Linked DNA regions of Homo sapiens: region 2 is linked to region 1. The links come from fine-mapping of genetic effects on gene expression. A gene starts in region 1. The other region holds a variant in brackets. All regions are shown on one strand. Distances are between the middles of the regions.

What was found. PIP is the estimated chance that this variant, and not a neighbour inherited with it, causes the effect.
Region 2: its variant is the best candidate, but not a certain one, in a credible set for the expression of NISCH in ileum (GTEx, PIP 0.90).

The regions. Positions count from the first base shown.
Region 1 is chr3:52,452,053-52,460,418 of GRCh38, reverse strand. NISCH (nischarin) reads right to left here and starts at 4,815. Exons shown (of 21, transcript NM_007184.4): 1 at 4,685-4,815; 2 at 2,493-2,576; 3 at 1,575-1,757. The coding sequence starts at 4,777. It overlaps TNNC1 (troponin C1, slow skeletal and cardiac type), which reads left to right and starts at 6,378. Exons shown (of 6, transcript NM_003280.3): 1 at 6,378-6,427; 2 at 7,906-7,936; 3 at 8,167-8,313. The coding sequence starts at 6,404. RefSeq lists enhancers at 3,161-3,836, 7,516-8,336 and a silencer at 4,661-4,890.
Region 2 is chr3:52,476,127-52,487,978 of GRCh38, reverse strand. It overlaps NISCH (nischarin), which reads right to left. Exons shown (of 21, transcript NM_007184.4): 8 at 11,380-11,532; 9 at 10,337-10,405; 10 at 9,697-9,882; 11 at 9,402-9,530; 12 at 8,117-8,230; 13 at 7,684-7,795; 14 at 3,342-3,466; 15 at 2,152-2,201; 16 at 1-783. Among named protein-coding and RNA genes, the nearest start is that of STAB1, 13 kb to the left of the region's middle. The variant G/C (reference allele first, on the strand shown) is at 5,702.

The DNA of each region.
Region 1 (8,366 bases):
AAAAAAAAAAAAAAAAAATAGTACAGCCATACAGTTGGATACTGCTTAAGAAAGTTGCATTTTTTTTGAGACAGTGTCTGCTGGGAAGACTGGTGTGCTGCTGGGATAATGATGGTGGAGCTGCAGATTTCTTTTTTGTTTTATTTTCCCAAAGAGCTGGGATCACAGGCATGAGCCACTGTGCTCAGCCTGGCTGTACCCTTTGATTTTTTTTTTTTTTTTTTTTTTTTTTGAGATGAAGTCTTACTCTCACTCTGTTGCCCAGGCTGGAGTGCAGTGACATGATCTCGACTTACTGCAACCTCTGCTTCTTGGGTTCAAGCGATTCTCCTGCCTCAGCCTCCCAAATAGCTGGGATTACAGGCATCTGCCACCATACCCAGCTAATTTTTGTATTCTTAGTAGAGACAGGGTTTCACCATGTTAGCCAGGATGGTCTTGAACTCCTGACCTCAAGTGATCTGCCCACCTCAGCCTCTCAAAGTGCTGGGATTACAGGCATGAGCCACTGCACCTGGCCTGATTTTTTTTTTTTAACCTCTTCTACTAGACTTTAGGGTTGTCCTTACTATTTTGTTACAATCCTGGAATGACTACCTTTGTTCATATATCCTTTTTGCGGCTGCCTGATTTTTCCTTAGAAGAAATTCTCATAAATAGAACTGCTATTTAATATTGTGGTTTTGGCCAGGTGCGGTGGCACACGCCTGTAATCCCAGCACTTTGGGAGGCTGAGGCAGGCAGATCACTTGAGGTCAGGAGTTCCAGACCAGTCTGGCCAACATGGTGAAACCCCATCTCTACTAAAAATACAAAAATTAGCTGGGTGTGGTGGTGCAAGTCTGTAGTCCCAGCTACTCGGGAGGCTGAGGCAGGAGAATTGCTTGAACCCAAGAGGCGGAGGTTGTAGTGAGCCGAGATCGCACCACTGCACTCCAGCCTAGGTGACAGAGCAAGACTCCGTCTCAAAAGCACAAATATTGTGGTTTCACACTGCCTAAGTGCCCTTCTTAAAGTCTGACAACGCATTCTGTCACCGGCAACCTATGAAAGTTGTTCCTCTTTCAAGGACGGAGTACAGAGCTGTTCTATGACACACTCTCCCATCACAGGAAGGTGTCCACCCTCAACCTTAGCACCCTGGCAGCGCGGACCCTGATGACACGCCCCAAGATGGTGATATTCCACCATCACAGACTAATCCCTTAATTAGTTTTGGGCTATGCACCAACAACTCAACAATAGTCTATCCCAGGTGTCAGCTATTTCTAATCCAGCCTCATCCATCTGGATGGAAACCTAGCTTAAACACCCACAGGCCATTTTTGCTAAACAAAATGCCTTGTGGTGGAGGAAAGCATCTCTGTGGCCACATTTAGTCTAATTTACGGCAAATCTGTCAACTAACATGCTTCTGGCCACAATGCATTCCTAACCAGGGTGACGTTCCTCCATCTTCTAACCTAGGGTCAAACCCCAGCCCACCTCAAAGCTGAGGTCTCCCCTGGTTTGCTGCCTCAAGTTTGGCAGTTGTGGGTTTGCAGGCACAGGTGAAAACCCGATGAGGAACTTACATAGAAGTGAAAATGCAAGAAGTGGGCCAGTACTCTGGGGGTCACGCCAGGGAAGGCAGCCAGGAGCTTCTGGAGGTAGACCTCCAGATCCTTCTCCCTCTTCTCCACCAAGCTTCTTGAGTTTTTCCCAATTATCTTTTTGGGCGGAAGCAGATTTTTATCAATCTTTCTCTCTGCAACGAGCTGTAAAAAAACATAAGCACATCAACCACAGACTAAGAGGCTCTGTGCCTATGTAAGACCAAGGCAAGAAGCTTGAGGGCAGGCGCTTGTCAGCACTTGCACAGCCCCTCCCTGCAGTAGTACCAAAATCAGTGACCAAACTAGTGCACCTGGGATTTGGCCTCTTTAAATCCAATTAGCATTAGAAATACCAATACAATTCTAGACAAGGAATTCCATCTGGAGACTTTAGAGACATTCAGAAAAGTAACACCTTTTGCCCCTAAAATTGCCATCTTTTCCAAGCCAGAGTAAAAACCAATCAGGGCAGCGGTGTGTCTTTAAAACAGTTATGCTGCAAATGACCCAGAGAAAGACAGCATCTCCAAAAGCAAAAAAAAGAGATGGAATCACAGCCAGATATTAAAGTAAGGCTTTGGAATAGCTATCGCTAGATCAAACAAGTTCAAACCTGTCCCCTTCCCAGGAAACTGTCTGAGCATCTCATACCCAAGCTAGGACTGGAAATATTAAAACTGAAATTCAAATATGCTCCTTGCAGAGTGGCTCATGCTAGAGCTGAAGGCTAGCATTTACATGCTATATTAATGAACGCAGTTATATTAACAAAGTGGTTTATTAAAGAACTATAGAGATGGAACCTGTTTTGCCCTAAAACTAATATGTGGCACAATGGAAAGTTGGCCTACGGGTCCCCCAGCCCTGAGATACGTGCTCCCAGCTCTTAACAGTTACCTTTTCATGCAGGTCATGGAAGTCGCTGTAGCGGTGCTTTACTGTCCACTCATGGCTGCCATCAGTGACCTGGATGATGTAAACCTAAAAGGGGAAACCAACAGCCCTTGTGGCAAGGGAGCCCAGCAACAAGGAGTCTCCTCCCCCAGCAGCAAAAGCTGCAATTATCTTTCCCAATTATCTTTTATCAGTCTTTCTCTCTGCAACTCAGACCCACCCCAAGGCCAAAGTCAGGCTGCCCTTGCCCACCAGCCTCTGCACCTGACCCTTGCTGACCAGCAGGGCCCCTCTCAGCTTCCTCCATGGCCCAAGCACTAGGGCTGGGAGGCACATGAGACAAGCATGTGGCTCCATCCATCAGTAAGGAATGAAAAAGGTGATTACCACAAGTCACCTCTTTAGTTTTTTACCTCCTGCCTCTAGGTAACTCAAAACCCAACCGGAGCTGCAGGCAAGGCCATTTCTTCCAAGGGAGGCAGAGCAGGGCCAGTTCTAGCCTGAGCATCTTCTCTGTTGTACTTCTTTCCAGGTGCCCTGACTACCTCCTGGAAGCAAGTCATTTTCCAACCCTTTCAACTGGTTCATGGCTGTGATTTCTGCTGCTGAGCCAGGAATCAAGGCACAAGCAGCTGATGTGGGGAGGGAGTGGTAGCAACTAAGCTCTATCAGGAGGCAATATGGCCTAGAGGTTAAGGAAGGCCTGGGTTAAAAACCTGGTTCTGCCATTTCCTGGCTGCAGCTTATGTGTCACTTATATAAGTAACTTGGAGCCTAAGTTCTCTCTGAGCCTTAGTTCCTCCATCTTAGAATCAAGGACCAAGTAAGGCAATGCATGTAAAATGCTTTGTACATGGGCCTGACCCATGGCAAGTGTTCAAAAGGTAGGTGTGTTAATAATGTCCAACTCGGCACACCCGGAGACAGAGGATGGTAGGGTCCAAACTAGATCACCACCTCCCCCGACATACATGCAGAGGAGGGGCGCAGTCCAGAATAGGGTGAGCTTTTTGAAGATGGCCCTCTGGCTGAATGTGCCCATAGCTGATGGCCAGTCAGCCATCAGCTTAGAGACCTCACCCGCCTCCTGCACCTAGTTTCCCCCTCCTCTCTGCAGCATGGAGCTGAAGCCTCCTCCAGCCCTGAGGAGCAGCCATTTCTCCAGGCTGGCCTGTTGCTTCAAGATCCACCCCTCTCCTCTTCCCATCCTGCCTGATTCCTTCCCCTTGCCTTCAGGAAAGGAGAAAAGAGCCAGAAGAATGGCCCTCAGAGCGGAAGGTTAGGATGAGGGCCAGGGAGGGGAGGTGCAGGCAGGCCCAAGGCCCCCACCCACTCCCTACCCTGCGGGAACAAAGGGGAGGAGGCAGGGAGGTGCTCTATGCCTAGTCCAGGGCCGGTTTTTGCCAGGCAGCCCACCAGGCTCACAGGCCTGGCATCCAACCCCGTCAAAGTCGGGAACTACCCGCTATTTGTCCTCTGTCTCCCCCATAGCTTAGAAGTGTGTGTGGGCAGCTTGTTGCCCCATCTCGCTCCCACAGCCCAAAGTCACGAAGATTCCTAAGGCTTATAGGGCCTGCGCTTTAGCACTGAGACCACCCCCATTTCTCCATAGATGGGCTCCACCCCTCCTCCGGTCTTGTCTCCGCCCGACCCCCAAGGCATCTGCTCCCCAGGTCTCTCCTGCACTTCTCAGAGAAAATCTCAACCACCACCTCAGGCTCCCCAGATCAGGGTCCTGACGCCTTCTCTTTCTTCAAGGCCTGCGAAGCCTGACCCTTTTCCCTGATTCCATCCATCAGAGACCCTCTCCCCATCGCCTTCCTCCTGGACCCCTGTAACGGTCTTCCAGGCCGGGGCCCCTCCAGTCCTAGAGGATCTAGAGGGGTTCCGCCTCATCTAGACACCCCCCTCCCCAAGCCCCCTTTATCCCCAGATGCCGCCCCCAACCCGAGCCTCCCTTTCTGATCGCGTACCCTTTTCCAAACCGCCTCCCCGGGCCCCGAGCAACCCTTCTCCCGGACCTGCGGGGCCCAGATCCCTTTCCTAGATCCCCCGTCCCAGCCCCCTCCTCGCAATCGCAGACCCTTCTACCCGCTCCTCGGGGCTGCAGATCCCGGACCCCTCCCCAAGCCCCCGAGTCGGACTCCCGGTTCCAGCCACCACCCCCGCTTCGGGTGCCCGCGCCCCCAACACACCGTATAAGTGTCCACAAGCTCCGAGCCCACGACGCGCGCTTCCTTGGCCGGCTCGGCTTCCCGCTCGGGCCCGAAGGTGCGCGCGGTCGCCATGTTCGGGTCTCCGCCGCCACCGCCGCCCGGCGCAGACTAGCAGCAGCAGGGGGCGGGGTCAACGTCCCACCGCCCCCCGGCCCCCGCCGCCCGTCGCCCCCGCCGCGCGCTGCGCCGCCATCTTGGCCCCGCCTTCTTCCTGCGCCCTCGCCCCGCCCCCGCGCGTGACTGACAGGGGCCACTCAGGGCGCGCGTGCGAGGTGCTCGCTTGCGTAATCTACCTGCGTGGCGCCGCCGGCGGTACCCTGCACAGCCTGCTAGAAACTGAGACCCCGGGTGGTGACAGCTCTGGGCATCGCCCCTGGGTCCTCGGGAAGAGGGGACAGAAGGTCCCGAGTCTCCCAGGCCACACGAAGCAAGTCACTGCTCTTCCTGGCCTCAGTTTACTCCTCCTGATAAAGGAGGCCATAATAGTGCCTCACCTGGCTGTTGGGCTCTTTCTCTTTAGGGCAAGGCAGGTTGGAGGGGAAAATAGGACCTGTGCTTACCGCCGGAGCAGGGCGAGAGTGATTCTGGGCCAGTTCTGAACCTCTCTGAGATTCGGAGATCTCTTGTCAGTGGGGCTTCTGGACAACTGAGTGGGTTGATTGATGCGCGGCCCAGCACGCAGTAGTGCTCGAGGCAGGGAGCGTGTTTATCAAGAGGGATAAACTTGATACGAACTCTGTACGAAGGAAGGTGTAGGTGGATGGAGGGGTGTGTGCTGCCACTGAGCACAAGAACCCCACGGGGTGGCCTGCCAAAGTTCAAAACGAGGGAGACAGGTTGATCTGGACCCAGGAACTACAGTGCTGAATCCTAAACCGGGGAAAGATGAGACCTAGAAGAGGGAGGTGGTAACCTAATTGGAGGGTGAGGAGGGAAAGAGCCTGCCACAGATGGGGCATCTATAGGGGTGCTGTTGAATAACTGAGAGCAGCTGACTTAAGCCCGAAGTGGGTACTTCTCCCTGGGCAGATGGGAGGTCTGGGACAGGCTCCTCTGGCAGAAGGGCTCCTGGCCACCCTGTCCTAAGGTGGGTCAGTCACTTCCTCCTTCACCAGTTCCACAGCATCTTACTATGAGCTTGGCATTCGAGGCTTCTCTTGGCAGGGCCCTGCACTCCTAGCCTCTCCTTGCACATTGCACCCCCATTCCAGAGAGGTTTAGTTAAAGGCGGGGGTTACCAAGTCAGTCAGATCTTGGGCAAGTCACCACTCCTCCAGAGCCTCAGTTTCCTTATCTGGAAAGTGGAGGTCATGGCAACCCGCCAACCTGGTTGGATGGGAGCCTGAGCTGTTGTGTTGCACCTTGCCTGGGGCCCACGACTTTGTAGCTCCTGTCCTGCACTGGGCTTATGTTTTCATTCATTCCAGAAACCTTTTCAGAGAGTCCCTTTGGGGAGTGTGGGGGACAGGAGGGAAAGAAACCTGGTCCTTGTAGCCGTTCGTCTGCTCCCTGCCCTGGGCAGAGGACGTGGGGACTCAGGCCAGCCTGAGATCACTGGGACCAGAGGAGGGGCTGGAGGATACTACACGCAGGGGTGGGCTGGGCTGGGCTGGGCTGGGCCAGGAATGCAGCGGGGCAGGGCTATTTAAGTCAAGGGCCGGCTGGCAACCCCAGCAAGCTGTCCTGTGAGCCGCCAGCATGGATGACATCTACAAGGCTGCGGTGAGGGACAGGGCTGGGTAGGGCTGGGGTGGGCAGGCCCACTGGGGGCTCACTCAGCTGAGAGTGCGGGGTTAGTAGCCCCAGGGAAGTGGTGGGGACCAAGGAGAAGGCCTACGTGCCTTCAACCCAGGCCCTCACAGGGACAGTGATTCTGGTGTTTGAGGATGCAGAAGGGGTAGGGGGTTCCGGGTCTGAAGGGTGGTGGAGGAGGTTGCAGCTTTCAGCATCGTGTCTCACTCTCTGTTTCCAAGTGTCTGTGGTCTGTGGCACTGTCGCTCAGCCACATGTCTCTGCATTTGTCTCTGGACGTTTTTGCCTTTCTCTTTTCATCTCTTCCTCCTGAGCTGTCTGAGTCCCCATTACTGTCTCCCTGTCCCCAACCCCCATTTCTGCCCCTCACATTCTGCTTCTCACATGCTCAAAATCTGCCACCCCACTCCAGCCCCTTGGCGGGCCGAAGATGCTTTGGAGGGTGGAGGGTGTGAGAGGAGGGGTCTGTAGAGCCTGAGTCCTGGGCTGGAGATGGGGCTTTGAAGTTTGAGGCAGGGAAGTTCTGGACATGAGGGAGAACCAAGGAAGAAGGAACAGAGAACTGGGGCCCCAGCTCCCATCATGCCTGGCAGGCTCAGGGCTCAGTGGCTTAGCTAGGGGTGAGAGCGAGGGAATGAGGGCTGGAGAGTGGTCACCCCAAGCCCCTGCAACCTCCTGGGTCACTGAGGGTCTTCAGATGCTATTCTATCCTGGGTGGTGGTGACCTCCCCCAACCCCAGAGCAAGGACATCCTGGCATGGCCAGCTGTCCCCAGGGGAACCCCTCCCTCAGCCTCCCTCACTCCTGGGCAGGGAAGTGCTATAGCCAGCTCTGGGGGCACGCCTGCTTATCCTGTGGGAGTCCATGGAGCCGGGGTTGGGACAGCCCTCCACCCAGTGCCCATACAAGGCCTGGCGGAGTTGGGGACTAATTTTGGCTTCTGAGGCGGCACTAGCAGGCCAGGGGGCCAGATAACGCTGCCCCACCCCCTGCATGCCAAAGTCCCCAGAACAATCACCAGGTTTAACTTTGTTCCTCGTTAAAAATAGCCCAGTGGCCACCCTGGTCAGGTTACCGTGGGTGGCTTGCCTGCCTCCACACTGGTTTTATTATCCCAACTTGAGGGACAGCTGTCCTTCGGGCCACCCAGCTTGAGTTTCATCAGGGGCCGAAAGGGCATTGAGTGGTCACTGACTATTGTTACTGAGGGTCACCTTGGTCCTGAAGGGGGTGCCCACCTGTCACCCTGGCCCTGAGCCCAGTCGCAGTGAGGCCAGCTGGGTCACGTCAGGGCTTTGGGGGCAGGGAGGGAGGACTGAGACCTCCACTCTGTGGCCTGGAAATAGCCTGCCTCCTCCAGCTCCAGCCTTCTCACCTGTGGAATGGGTTGGTTTCCTCAGCAGCAGCTATACCTGAGTCTGAGCCTTGAGATTCCCTTTCCTTTCTAGGTAGAGCAGCTGACAGAAGAGCAGAAAAATGGTGAGAATCCCTATCACACATGTGGGAGACCAGCGGGTCCAGGCTGGCATGGGGACCCCTTATCAGAAGAGGACCCCAGGCCAGAGACCAGAGGCTTGGTCCCTCTTGCTCTGCCCTCAGAGAGGTCTCCGAGGGAGGTGGGCAGGTTGGCAGGTGGCCCCAGGGTTCTGGCCCTCCGTGGTCCTGGCTGCTGAGCCCTGACTACTGTGCCCCCCAACCCCTGAACACAGAGTTCAAGGCAGCCTTCGACATCTTCGTGCTGGGCGCTGAGGATGGCTGCATCAGCACCAAGGAGCTGGGCAAGGTGATGAGGATGCTGGGCCAGAACCCCACCCCTGAGGAGCTGCAGGAGATGATCGATGAGGTGGACGAGGACGGTGAGCCCCCTCCTCCCCAGGCTCCAGAAGAACCCCAGCTGGCTGGGGGCTGG
Region 2 (11,852 bases), 26 kb before region 1:
GTGTGGCTGCCGTAGAGGATGGGGCTACACAGCATGGCCATGTGCTGGGGTGCAAAGCATGAGCGCAGGTCCGCGTGGAACTCGTGCAGGTTGGCGGCGTCCGAGATAATGAAGAGCGTGTTCTCACTGTGCCGTACCTTGAGCACCAGACACAGCTCCGGCATGAGGAAGCCAAACTCGGTGAGGTCGCCATGCGGGAAGCAAAAGACAAAGCGCAGGGAGGAGAGGATGTGCTGGCTGCTGCCCCGAGACTCCTGGTGCGGGATCTCGAAGACTGCGATGCCGAAGTCGGTGAGCACAAGGCAGGCGGCGAACTGGCGGATACTGCCCTGCACATGGATCAGGAAGCACCACAGCACCTTGAGGATGCGGATGTGCTCCAGCAGGAAGTCCTCGTCCGCGCCCAGGGCCCATTCCAGAGCCAGGCGCTCCTCCTCGGCCTCTTCATCCTCCTCTTCCTCCTCCTCTTCCTCCCCCTGGCCTCCTCCCTCCTCCTCCTCCACGTCTGGGGGCCCCATTTCAAAGTAGCGGTTCTCAGCCACGTCCTCCTCTTCTTCCTCCTCCTCATCCTCCTCCTCGCCCTGTTCACCCTGGCCCTCCTCCCGCTGGTTGGCAGCCTCGATCCAGGCAGGCAGCTGCCGCTCGATGGCCTGCCGGATCAGTGTGCTCAGGCGCTGGATGAAGTCCTGATTGGTGGCCGTGTAGCCAATGCAGGTGAAGGGCAGGAAGATGATCTGGCCAGACCCCGGCACCACCTGGACCTCCGGCTCGGCATGTTCTGGGCTGTGCAGGGAGAGGCCAGGTCAGTGGCATGCTGGGAGGGGCCCCTCCCACCTCCCACCTGCCACATCTGGAGCCCACTGCTACACCCTGACCCTGAGAAACCAACCCATGGGTCTCCCAAGCCTCCCACATGGCCAAGTCAGTTCCCAGGATGAGGGCCCTGGTGGGAGCCAGTGCTGCCTGCTGGAAGGCTGGGTCGCCAGTTTGGTCAGAGTCTATGCTTCTAGGGGCTTGGACCATAGGTGCCTGGCACAGCTATGCCCAGACCACACGAGTTCCCACAACAGAAGCACTCCCATGGACTTCTAAGTCATTCAGTTGCTGCCATAAGCCCCGGAGAGAAGGAACACTCCAGGGCATGAATCTACTTGTCACCCCTGGTGGCCTCCGGGGCAGGGAAGTGGGCTGGGGCAGGTCTTAGGACCTTCACACTTAAATTCCAGCTCTTCTTGGCCACCGCAGCCCTCACATGTAGAGTGGGAGTTAGTAAGCTTCTGTAAAGGGTCAGAGTACACATTTTGGGATTTATGGGCTACCATGTCCATACGATCTTCAGCAGCCCTTTAAGAATGTAACTGTCCAACATGGCGAAATCCTGTCCCTACTAAAAACAGAAAAATTAGCCAGGTGTGGTGGCGGGCACCTTGGGTGGCTGAGGCAGAAGAATCGCTTGAACCCGGGAGGCGGAGGTTGCAGCGAGCTGAGATCGGGCCACTGCACTCCAGCCTGGGTGACAAAGCAAGACTCAGTCTCAAAGAAAAAAAAAGTAACTGTTATTCTAGCCAGGCGCGGTGGCTCATGCCTGTAATTCCAGTACTTTAGGAGGCCGAGGTTGGTGGATCACTGGAGTTCAGGAGTTCGAGACCAGCTAGGCAACATGGTGAATCTCTGTCTCTACTAAAAATATAAAAAATTAGTTGGGCGTGGTGGCGTGCGCCTGTGGTCCGGGCTACTCAGAAGGCTGAGGCTGAGACAGGAAAATTGCATTAATCTGGGAGGCGGGGGTTGCAGTGAGCCAAGAACACGCCACTGCACTCCAGCCTGGGCGACAGAGCGAGACTCAGTCTCAAAAAAAGAAAAAAGAATGTAACTGTCATTCTTAGCTCCCAGGCTGTGGGCCACACACAGGCCTTGATTTGCCAACCCCTGGTGTAGGGCAACATGTGCTGAGCAGAGTTTAGGTATTAGAATTTGGAAACAGATTGAAAAGTCCATCTCATCTGTGTCTCTTTAGAGGAAGAAATAGTTCTATAGGCCTTCTGTGAACGGATTTTTAAAAAAACCTGACTGGCCACCCCTGGCCCACAGCAGTGTGTGTGCATAAGGCTGTGTGGCCAGGCCCAGGTCCCTTTCCAACCTCTTCCTTACCTTGCACCACCAACAGCTCCTGGCACGTCCCTTAAATCATCGGAAGCTGCCTGATGGAGAAAGAAACACAGTCAGTCCCCACCTACTGCAGCCAGCCCCAGCCATTTACTGGTTGCCAGACCCTGAGCTGGGCATTCTGCCCTCCATCACCGCCCTGAGGAGGCTCCCCATCCCCACGCTGTACCCTGGAGCCCACTCTGGGACCCTGGGGCCCACTCTGGGACCCAAGGGCAGAGACCCACTTGGTTATCCCACCAGCACACAGCAGGGCTGGGATTCCCACTCGCAACCTAGGGCCAGAGCCTCTCGCCACTCTCCAGGGATCCAGCATCTGACTGCTCCTTGTGCCACGCAAGGGTCCAGGTAGACAGTCTACAAATTTGGTCCGACCCTAACTGGCCAGCAGTGGACACAGCCCTGGCAAGTCCCTCCCAATGGTCTCTGTGCACTGGGGAATACCTAGGGCTTGGGAATCTCTTGCTGTGTGACCCTGGAAAGGGTGATGGCAGAATACTGTGGAGTACTGAGGACAGACAAGGACTCTGCAAACTGTCCCAGTGTCACAAGGCCATAACCTTGTGCTGCTGCAGAGATGGGGCTGGAGGGAGGCCCAGGCACCAAGCACATTTGCGAAGCACACAGCAAGCACCCTTGCTTTCCTCCTGTCTTTCCTCAGGACAAAGGAAGGGGCCCCAGAACTCTCAGTAACAACCACAGAGGAGGCGCCAGAGTGAGACTGTTTCCCAGACCACCAGGGTGACATGCGGAAAGGCGCCGAGTGGCTCCAGGGGTGCCAGGAAACAGAGAAGAAACCCAAACAAGCCCCTGCACGAGGGTCTTTTGAAATGCCTTCCCCAGGGAAGCCTGCTCACAGGGTCAAGGGCCACCCTCTCCACCTGCCCCCCTCGTGCCCTGGGCCCAGTGACAGAGAACTGCCTGTTCCCATCAACCAAGGTGGGTGGGGAAGGGAAGGAGGGAGGCTGAAAATAAACCCTTAACCACTGTGTTTGTCAGGAAGACACTCAACCAGAGACAGGTCCAAGAGAAAGACCGTGGCACAAAGCAGAGGACGCCAAACCCTGGAAGCATCTGCCTCAGCTCCAGCTAGGCCACTTCCTACTGCACACAACCCCAAGCAGAAGAGTCCACCCACAGATGTATGGTCCCCAGAAGCGGGAAGAGGGCATTACCTGTCCCGCAGGGATGGACTCCAAGGAATCAGAACATCCCTGGGCAATGGGCTGGTGCTCGGGAGTCAGACTGTCAGTGGACGAGAGGCTGCTGGCCAGGGCCTCCTCCTGAACGAACATGATTCCTGGAGAGACCAGGGCGGGTGGGCAGGCAGGCAGGGTGGGTGGGGCGGGGAGAGCGGCTGTTCAACAAGTGGGGCTGGGCCCCTCAGGCTACTGGCATGGCGGGGGTTAGCCAGATCCCAAAACCCAGCCACATGGATTATAGAAGAAAATGTTAAAACTGAAATCTCAAAATAACTCAAGAAAGAACAAATGACTGCTTATCTAATCTCAGGGCAGGGAGAAGCATTCTGAGAATAAATGCAATGGAAAAAAACTGAGATGTGACTACATAAAAATTAAACTTCCACAGACACATTTTTTAAAAACCAGGATAGATTAAAACCAGATGAAATGAGAAAAGTGTTTGCAATATTTGACAAGGATTTATATCGCTAGTCTGTAAAAAGTTCTTACAGATTACAAAAATGAGGGAAGGTTGGAAACCTCATTAACAGACTGCAAAGGACGTGAACAGACATTCCGCAGAAGAACGGCCAGCGGATAGAACATGAAAAGAATGCTCGCTCTCAGAAGTACACAAAGAAAGGCAAGCTGAAACAAGAGACAAGTGTTGCCTCTCAACTTCTGCCAAAGTCAGACTGACTGTGTGGCCTGGCCCTGACCTCGCTGGGCAGAGGCCGGCACAGGCATGCAAGCTGGCCCACCCATCCAGAGAAGAGTTTGGAGGTACATCCATCAAGAGCCTGAAATGTGTTCACTCCTGGAGCATTTTCCCAGACGGTGACTAGACATGACCCCGTCCCCTGATTTGTCATCTCTGCAGGACTCATAGATACACAGGGCACGGGACAATTCACCAGGGGGCCAGCCCTTGCAGGCCTTGGTATCCAGCAGGGCTGCTGAGTCCAGCCTGAGCCCACATCCACAGTCCCACTTACCACAGGACGTGCCCACTGACCTGCCCTGGGGCCACCTCCCACGGACAGCAGCACTCTGACCCACTGCGTCCCGTAAATGCACAGTGTTCCTAAACCCCGCTGAAGCTGTTTTATGAACGTAGCCTATCTGGACCTGTTACTCCACCTCAGATCACCTCTAGACCACTTGAAGGTAAAGCCTTTGTGAACATGTTCCTGACTGCCGCCAGCAGGGTGAACACTGGGCATCGGCCGCCAGTCTCACTGAGGCCTACAGGAGCCCTAGGCCTACCTCCACAGCCCAGCATCGCCACAGCCCAGTGAAATGACCCCGAGTCCTCTGAGCCCCACAGGTCGAGACCCCCGACCAGCTCAGCTGCTCCCCGGGACAGGACAACTCACACAGCCTGGGTCCTCTGCCCACAAGCGAGGCAGGCAGGTGGGCCCAAGCTCAAACGCCCCCACGAAGCGAAGCAGCAGGGGGTAGGCAGGCAGGAAGGATGGCAAGCACACAGCCATGCATGAAGCACCCTGATGGGCCACGCTGGGCACCTGCCCAGGCCGCTGCTCTCCTGCAATCCACCCTCTGCCTGCTAACGTTCAACTCCTATTCACCTTCGAGATTCACCTCAGACACCACCTCCACTGCAGACCTTCTCTGCTCTAGACAGTCTACAAAAGCCCCACACCATCCTACCCTGTTCTCCTCCAGCACATGGCTCATCCTCCCGCATGGCTCCAAGCTCCCCAGGGGCACAGTCTGGGTCATCTTGAACCCCCTACTAAGGATGTGGGAAAGGGCAGCCCTCATCGACCACCTCTGTGGAGCTCTGGGTAGTGCCAAGCGCCTCCCCAGCATTCGCTCATGCATGCCTCTCGTTATTTACCACATTTCATCAAATCTAAGATGCGGCAGGTGGCGCCATCTTGGTCCTAGCGGAAGGTGTCCACGGGTTTTCCACGACTCCATCTCGAATACCAGCTGGCTGACAGCGACTATGAGACGCCACTGACTGAAAGACGCACCTCAGTTTCAGAGAAGTCACAAGGTGGAAATGCGTGCCTCTTAGAATCAATGAAGTAGGGTGCGTCCACTTCACAGTTGAGAAAACAGCTTCAGAGGGGCTACAAGTTGCTTGAGGTCCCACAGCTAGGAAGCTGGCATGCGAACTCAGCTGACCGAGCCCTGGCTCCTAACCACCTCTCCACACAGCCTCCTCTCAGCCCCTGGGCCTGGCTGGACAATCAACTCTGGCGACCACCCCTATTGGTCACAATCATCCATGGCTCCGACAGCGCCTGCCACGACGGGAGGCTGGGTGTTGTCTGGACAGCGCCCCCTTCAGGCAGGCCCGAGTGCCAGTTCCTTCGCAAGCA[G/C]GCTCCCTTCTCGGGAATCAGGCTGGAAGCAACAGGCATGGGTCAGCAAAGCTGCTCCCACGCGCTAAAAAACCCTGTCCATCCAGGCAAGACCCAGGAACACGCGGCTGAAAAAACACACGGGGAGGCCTCCAAATCAGTGAGAAAAAGACCAACACCTTTTGCCACTACCTCCCACAAGCCCTGTTTGGACCAAGGAAATGTGGACAGGGACAGGGACAGTCTATCTGCTCCCGTCCTGGACCGTGGCCTGTACAAACAAGTGGTCAGAAAGGGCACTCAGCGGATAGAGCGGAGACATCAGGAGAGTCCTTAGGGGTCCGATCTTTGCTGTTTCTCACCAAAAGGAAAGAGAGGTGCACACAAAGACATCCACTGCAGTTTTATTTAAGAGGTGCAAATCTGGAGGCCATGTCCAGAAGTCCAGCGATGGCGGGGACAGACTGCAGAGTGCCCCTCTGCAGAGTGTCCCCAGGGCACAAGGGGAGTGAGGAGGGGGCTGAGCTGGTGCAGAGGCTTCTCCGACAATGTGGGGGGCTGCCTGCAGCTGCAGCCTGGGGACATGGTGCATCCCCACCCATCCAGGGCCTGCTCTTCACTGGCTCCTGCTCTACCTGCCCACTCACTCACTCACTGATCAACAGATGCTGGCAGAAATGGCTGTGTCCCTGGCCTTGAGAAGCAGATGCAGCTCCCTGTCCCCAGAGGCCTACAGTCATATGGTACCTCCACAGGCTCGCTTGGCTGCGCTACAGGAGGCAGCGTCAGGGAAGCTTTCTCACCGTGATATAACCTCCCTGGCTTTTATGTAATAAAATGCAACCAGAAATCCTTAGTCAAGAGTCTGACAGAAGCAAAATGGGCAATCATCCTGGCACCTAACCCCATCGCTCCACGCTCAGGAATTCTCTTCCACATCTCACAGGTGTGACCTCAGTGTGCTGCTCTGCGTTGGGCCTTTTGCCTTAACTTGAATGCTTCTCCCCTCTTCCTGCCCAGTCTTCCTGTCCCTGCTGGGAGGGCTGCTGAGCATTCTGCACCACAGCCGACTCTCCCTCTCATCCTCCGATGTTGCAGTTGCAGCCCGTGTTTTGGCAGTGGTGAGCATTTCACCTCCCCTTCCCGGTATCTTATCCCTCTAAGAGAAAATCCCCACCAGTGGGGTTACCAGGTCAAGGGGTGGGAATGTTTTTCTGGCTCTTAAAACATCGGGTTGAACTGTTTTCCCAAGACCTCACACCAAGTTCTGCGTCTCCAGGAGCCCGGGCAGGCGGCGTCCTTTCCTGCGTGTCCCGAGCCTCGGCTCCACTCGGGACGGCACACCCTCCCCTCTTCCGTGGGGGCCGGGCCAGCAGACACGCTCATGAGACCTGCTTCACTCACTCATCTCCGAGGATGCCTGGGTTCAGAGGTGAAAGCCCTTTGAAAACGCTAAGATAGTGGGCAGACGAATGGGCCTGGTCTTCCATGGGTCCACAGGGACAGAGATGGCCCATCTTGGCCCCACAAACATGGTGTTCTGGGGCTGGGTCACCCCACAGAGATGAGGCAGTGATAAAAGCAAGCTTTTCCCTGCACAGGGATTCGGGCTCCAGACAGTAAAGTCACAAGCCCGGCTTCCTGTAACCAGGAGCCAACCTGCTTGTGCTGCCGGTGAGGGAATGGGTCCCATGAGCCAACAGCCCCGAGCCTGTTCAGAGGGCAGCCTCAGGGCCTGTCAGACACCCTGCGGTCTCCTAGAGGAGCTGGATGTGGGCATCAGAGCAATTGGGAGTCCTCACCAAGCAAGCAACAGCTGGCATCAGGCCAGGCACCCCTGCCATGTGTCCCCCCGCGAGGACCAGCCTGCAGAAGGCACTGCCCTCCCTGTGTCTGACCCTGTTGGAAGCAGGTGCTGGCACCTCTCCCCCAACCCCAGCCCAGCCAGGGGGCCCAGGCAGGGCTGTGTGGCTCCACTAGAAGCAAGATACATACACGATTACCTTGGTTAGAGAGGATGGGCTGGGGCAGGGAGGCAGATGCGGGAGCCACAGTGGGAGGGGAGCTGCTGGGTCTGATGCAGGGGGCAGCTGAGAGCCGGGAGTCTTCACCACCCTGAGGACGAGTGCTTGAGTCAGCCCGGGAGAGAAGAGGAAGCACAGAGCTCCCCAAGGCCAGGGGTGTGAGGAGGGAGCGCAACGGTTCCCACCAACTGGGTGGTAAAGATGGTCTCATCATATCCTTAGAGCAGGAACTACCACTGTCCCCACCCCACAGAGAACAGAGAGGCCGCGACTTGCCCGAGGTCATGCAGCCAGGGAGGGGCGCAGCTGGGACTCGGCAGCCCTGAGCAGTCCCATGGCCCAAGCCCCCCAAACTGGCTCCTATCCCGGCTGGCTCTGCACCACTGCCCTCCCACCTGCCACACAAACCCACCTTCTTCTCTGGGTTGCTCAGTTTGGACTTGACCTCCTTGGCTTTCTGAATTGCTTTCAGCACTTCCACAGTGTCCAGCTCCTTCTCTGTGGTCACTGTGTCATCCAGACAGACCTAGAGCATCCAGAAAGTGGCTATCAGCATGGGGACTGGTGATGGCTATCAGCATGGGGACTGGTGATGGCTATCAGCATGGGGACTGGTGAGCATGGCAGGAGGATGGTAGGGCTCTGCTGAGGAGGAGGCGTGAGCACCTGCTGTGGGCCAGGCCACGTGAGGACACCATAGGCTGAGGGAGGCTCAGCCTGCTCAGAGGCGGCTCTTCACTACTCATGGAAGTGACCTGGGAATGCCTTGGAGGGGTCCAGGGAGGTCTCACATCTGTCTCTGGAGTCCCTCACCAAGAACAGGAGGCAGCAAGCTCTTGGGCAGCTGGGACTAGGGTAAGGGGGCAACTTGAACTAAGCCCCCAGTTAGAGGTGGGAGGCAGACTCTCAAAAGAGCGATGGGAGAGCCTCCTGGGTAGGGGAACCAGCGGCAGGAGAGGGCAGGGCCCCCGCCTGCAAATGTGGGAGGGAGTGGTGGCTGGCAGGCAGTGGGGGGTTGGGTAGGGTGGTTGAATGAGGGAAGGTCCCAAGGGCCTGGACAGGAGCTGACACTCTGTGGCCTGGGAGCTTCCCAAAGTCTGCAGCCCAGGAGGGGAGGAGATGGCATCTCATGGTCTTGTGACTGTGTGGAGGAAGGGGCACTTGCGGCCACAAAGAGGGAGGTGGGACACAAATAGACTTCCAGGTATTTTCTGACCTGGGATTTTGGGAGAACAGAAGGTCCAAGGACCAATCAGAGCATCACGGGGACTGCTCCAGGCCCAGGCGATGGGTGAACCTGGTTAAGGGTGTCTGGTCAGCATCGTGGCAGGTGCACAGACACCGCGAGGGGCAGCAGACACCAGGCTGGGCTACACTGGCAAAGGCAAACCCTTTGGGTTTACAGTCAGGCACTATGGCCACAGGTTGTCCAGGAGATATGAATATTTTAAGGATCTTATTTCTGACCCTTTCCTAGAATAAACAATGTTATCCCAGACAGTAGGGGCAGGAGATGCAAGGGAGCTTTTTCCTGGGGAGATAGTGGACTTCCCAGAACTGAAAAGCCCCTAAGGGACAGGACCTCTTTCTGAAGCAGGCAAGGGTAGAACAATGGACATATATCCCCCTACCGCCCATGCAGACTTGACTGCATCCCGAAGGTCTCCCTGGGCTCTTCTGACTGTGCTGGGGCTCACCTCTGAGGCCCTCTCTCCGAACTGAGCCAGCACCTTGGTCCGGTAGTCGGGGATGATGCTCAGAGGGTTGTTCAGCAGAGACACGTGCTCCAGACACGGGAGGCTGCCTATGCTCCGGACCTCCTCCATCTGCAAGGTATGAGTTCCATCCCCTTTGGTCCCTTCTCTTAACACTTCAGCAACACGCCAACACGTTTCATGGTCTCTTTTAAATGAAAGGAATCTTAACATTCTTCTTTAACATGATACACACCAAGGCACAGAAATCCCAAAACTGTGAGGTCCTTGGGCTCACCTGTTCGATCCTGTTGTCCCGGAGATCCAGGTTGACCAGTGAGTAGAGCTTGTGCAGGCCACTCAGACTCTCTAGGAGGTTGCCTGCCAGGTTTAAGGTCTTGATGTTCCCCAGCTTGGTGTGAAGCCCTTCCAAGGAGGAGAGCTTGTTGTAGGACAGGTCCAGATGCACAAGGTTATACAGGTGCTGCAGCGGCGTGGAGAACAGCGTAAAGTGGCTCAGGTCAAGTCTCCAAAGATAGGGGCCTGACACTAATGGCAGGATGGGCCTTCCAACCCAAACTACCCAGTTCTGCAAGTCACTCTGACAGTTATTTTAGGAAGGGAAGTCCCTCTTCTCTGCCGCACATGCCACAGCACAGTGGCACCCCTGCAGACAGTTGGGGTGGGCGTTGAAAACATGGCTGTCCACCTTCAGGACGGAGGTGCATCATCATGCCTGGTTTGTATTTACTCATGCTTCCTAATTCTTTGGAACTAGAGCAACAATCACTCAGTGCATTGCTGGGATCCTAAAGCGAAGACAGCAACCCCTGCCCTTACAACCCCTGGCCAATTCCCAAGGCTGCGTCAGTCTCCTGAAATCTCAGGGCGGGGCCTTGGGAGTGTGTGCGGGCAGCACTGGTCTCCAAAGGCACTACCTGCAGATTGTCCACAACCAGCAATCCATTGTGACTCAGGTCCAGGAACTCAATCTTTGGGATCAGTTTCTTGTGAAAGAAAAGAACACCCGATGTTACTGTAGGGGGCTGGACCCCAAACACGGTCCCCGACACAGTGGACGGGCACCCCAGGACGCTTCCTCCCGACCATGGACTCCCACGGGCCGTCCCTGCAGGACCACTGGTGGGACATCTCCCGCTGCCCAGCCAGTAGCACATCCAAAGGCACACACAGGGCCCCCAGTGCTGGGCACTACTCAGTTTTCATGGAACACTTGGCTTGTGAAAATGACACACAGCAAGGTCCCAGACAGAGAAGAGAGTCTGTTCTTCTTCAACCCTGCCCACACTCCCTGAGCAGCGCAAACACGGGAACGACACTCTTACTGCCCAAATGCCCTCTGGGTGTCATTCTTTCATGGGCACATCTGTCATCTAAGGAGTGATTTTTCTGCTCCACTCTTTGGAGCAAATGTCATCATTTAGTGTGTTATAGTTTACCAAATTTACATGAAATTATTATGTTTTATTTGGTTCTAAGTACTACCTCACCAATTTTAAATGATCCCATTTTTTTTTCTTCTTTTGAGACGGAGTCTCACTCTGTCGCCCAGGCTGGAATGCAGTGGCCCTATCTCAGCTCACTGCAACATCCGCCTCCCGGGTTCAAGCGATTCTCCTGCCTAAGCCTCCCAAAGTAGCTGGGATTACAGGTGTGCACCACCACACCCAGCTAATTTTTGTATTTTTAGTAGAGATGGGGTTTCACCACATTGGTCAGGCTGGTCTCGAACTCCTGACCTCAAGTGATCCTCCCGCCTCGGCCTCCCAAAGTGCTGGGATTACAGGTGTGACCCACCACGCCCAGCCCCCATTTTGTAATTAACTTAAAATGGCAGGCAATGCACAGAGCACTAGATATAGGTTTTCCGTGGTCCTTCCTAAAAAAGCTGAGTTAAATACTCAAACTCAGGGTTTGGTGGGGCCAGAGAAACCCCTGGCACCTGCTGCTGAGAGCATACCACAGACTCGTCGATCTCGGAGACGCTGTTGTGGCTCAGGTCAAGCGTGGTCAATGCCTGCCAAGTGGGGATGACGGCAGTCACAGGGCCTTCTAGGGTTGTGCCTTCAGGCTCCCACTCATCAAATTCTGAGGCTTCAGGAACAAGGACTTCCTGCATAAAAACATCTGTGTGGAGCACCACACTCGGGCCCTCACGCAACACTCACTGGGAACACAGTCGTTGCAGAATTTAAGGAAGGGCTGGAGCATATTTAGCATGTGGAAGTAAACTTGCATTAAAGCATGCCTTTGGTTCCTATGTCTTTAAACGATTGTGAAATCGTTCAAAGCTGAACAATTTACCACATAACAGCCACTTAGAATTAAGTCCTGGCCCTGCTTTAGGAGCAATGCTTTTCAAGCCCAAAGGGCCTTTGCCCTGGTGACCTGGTGATGCCTTTTCTAGCCTTTTCTCTTTTTTGAGATGGAGTC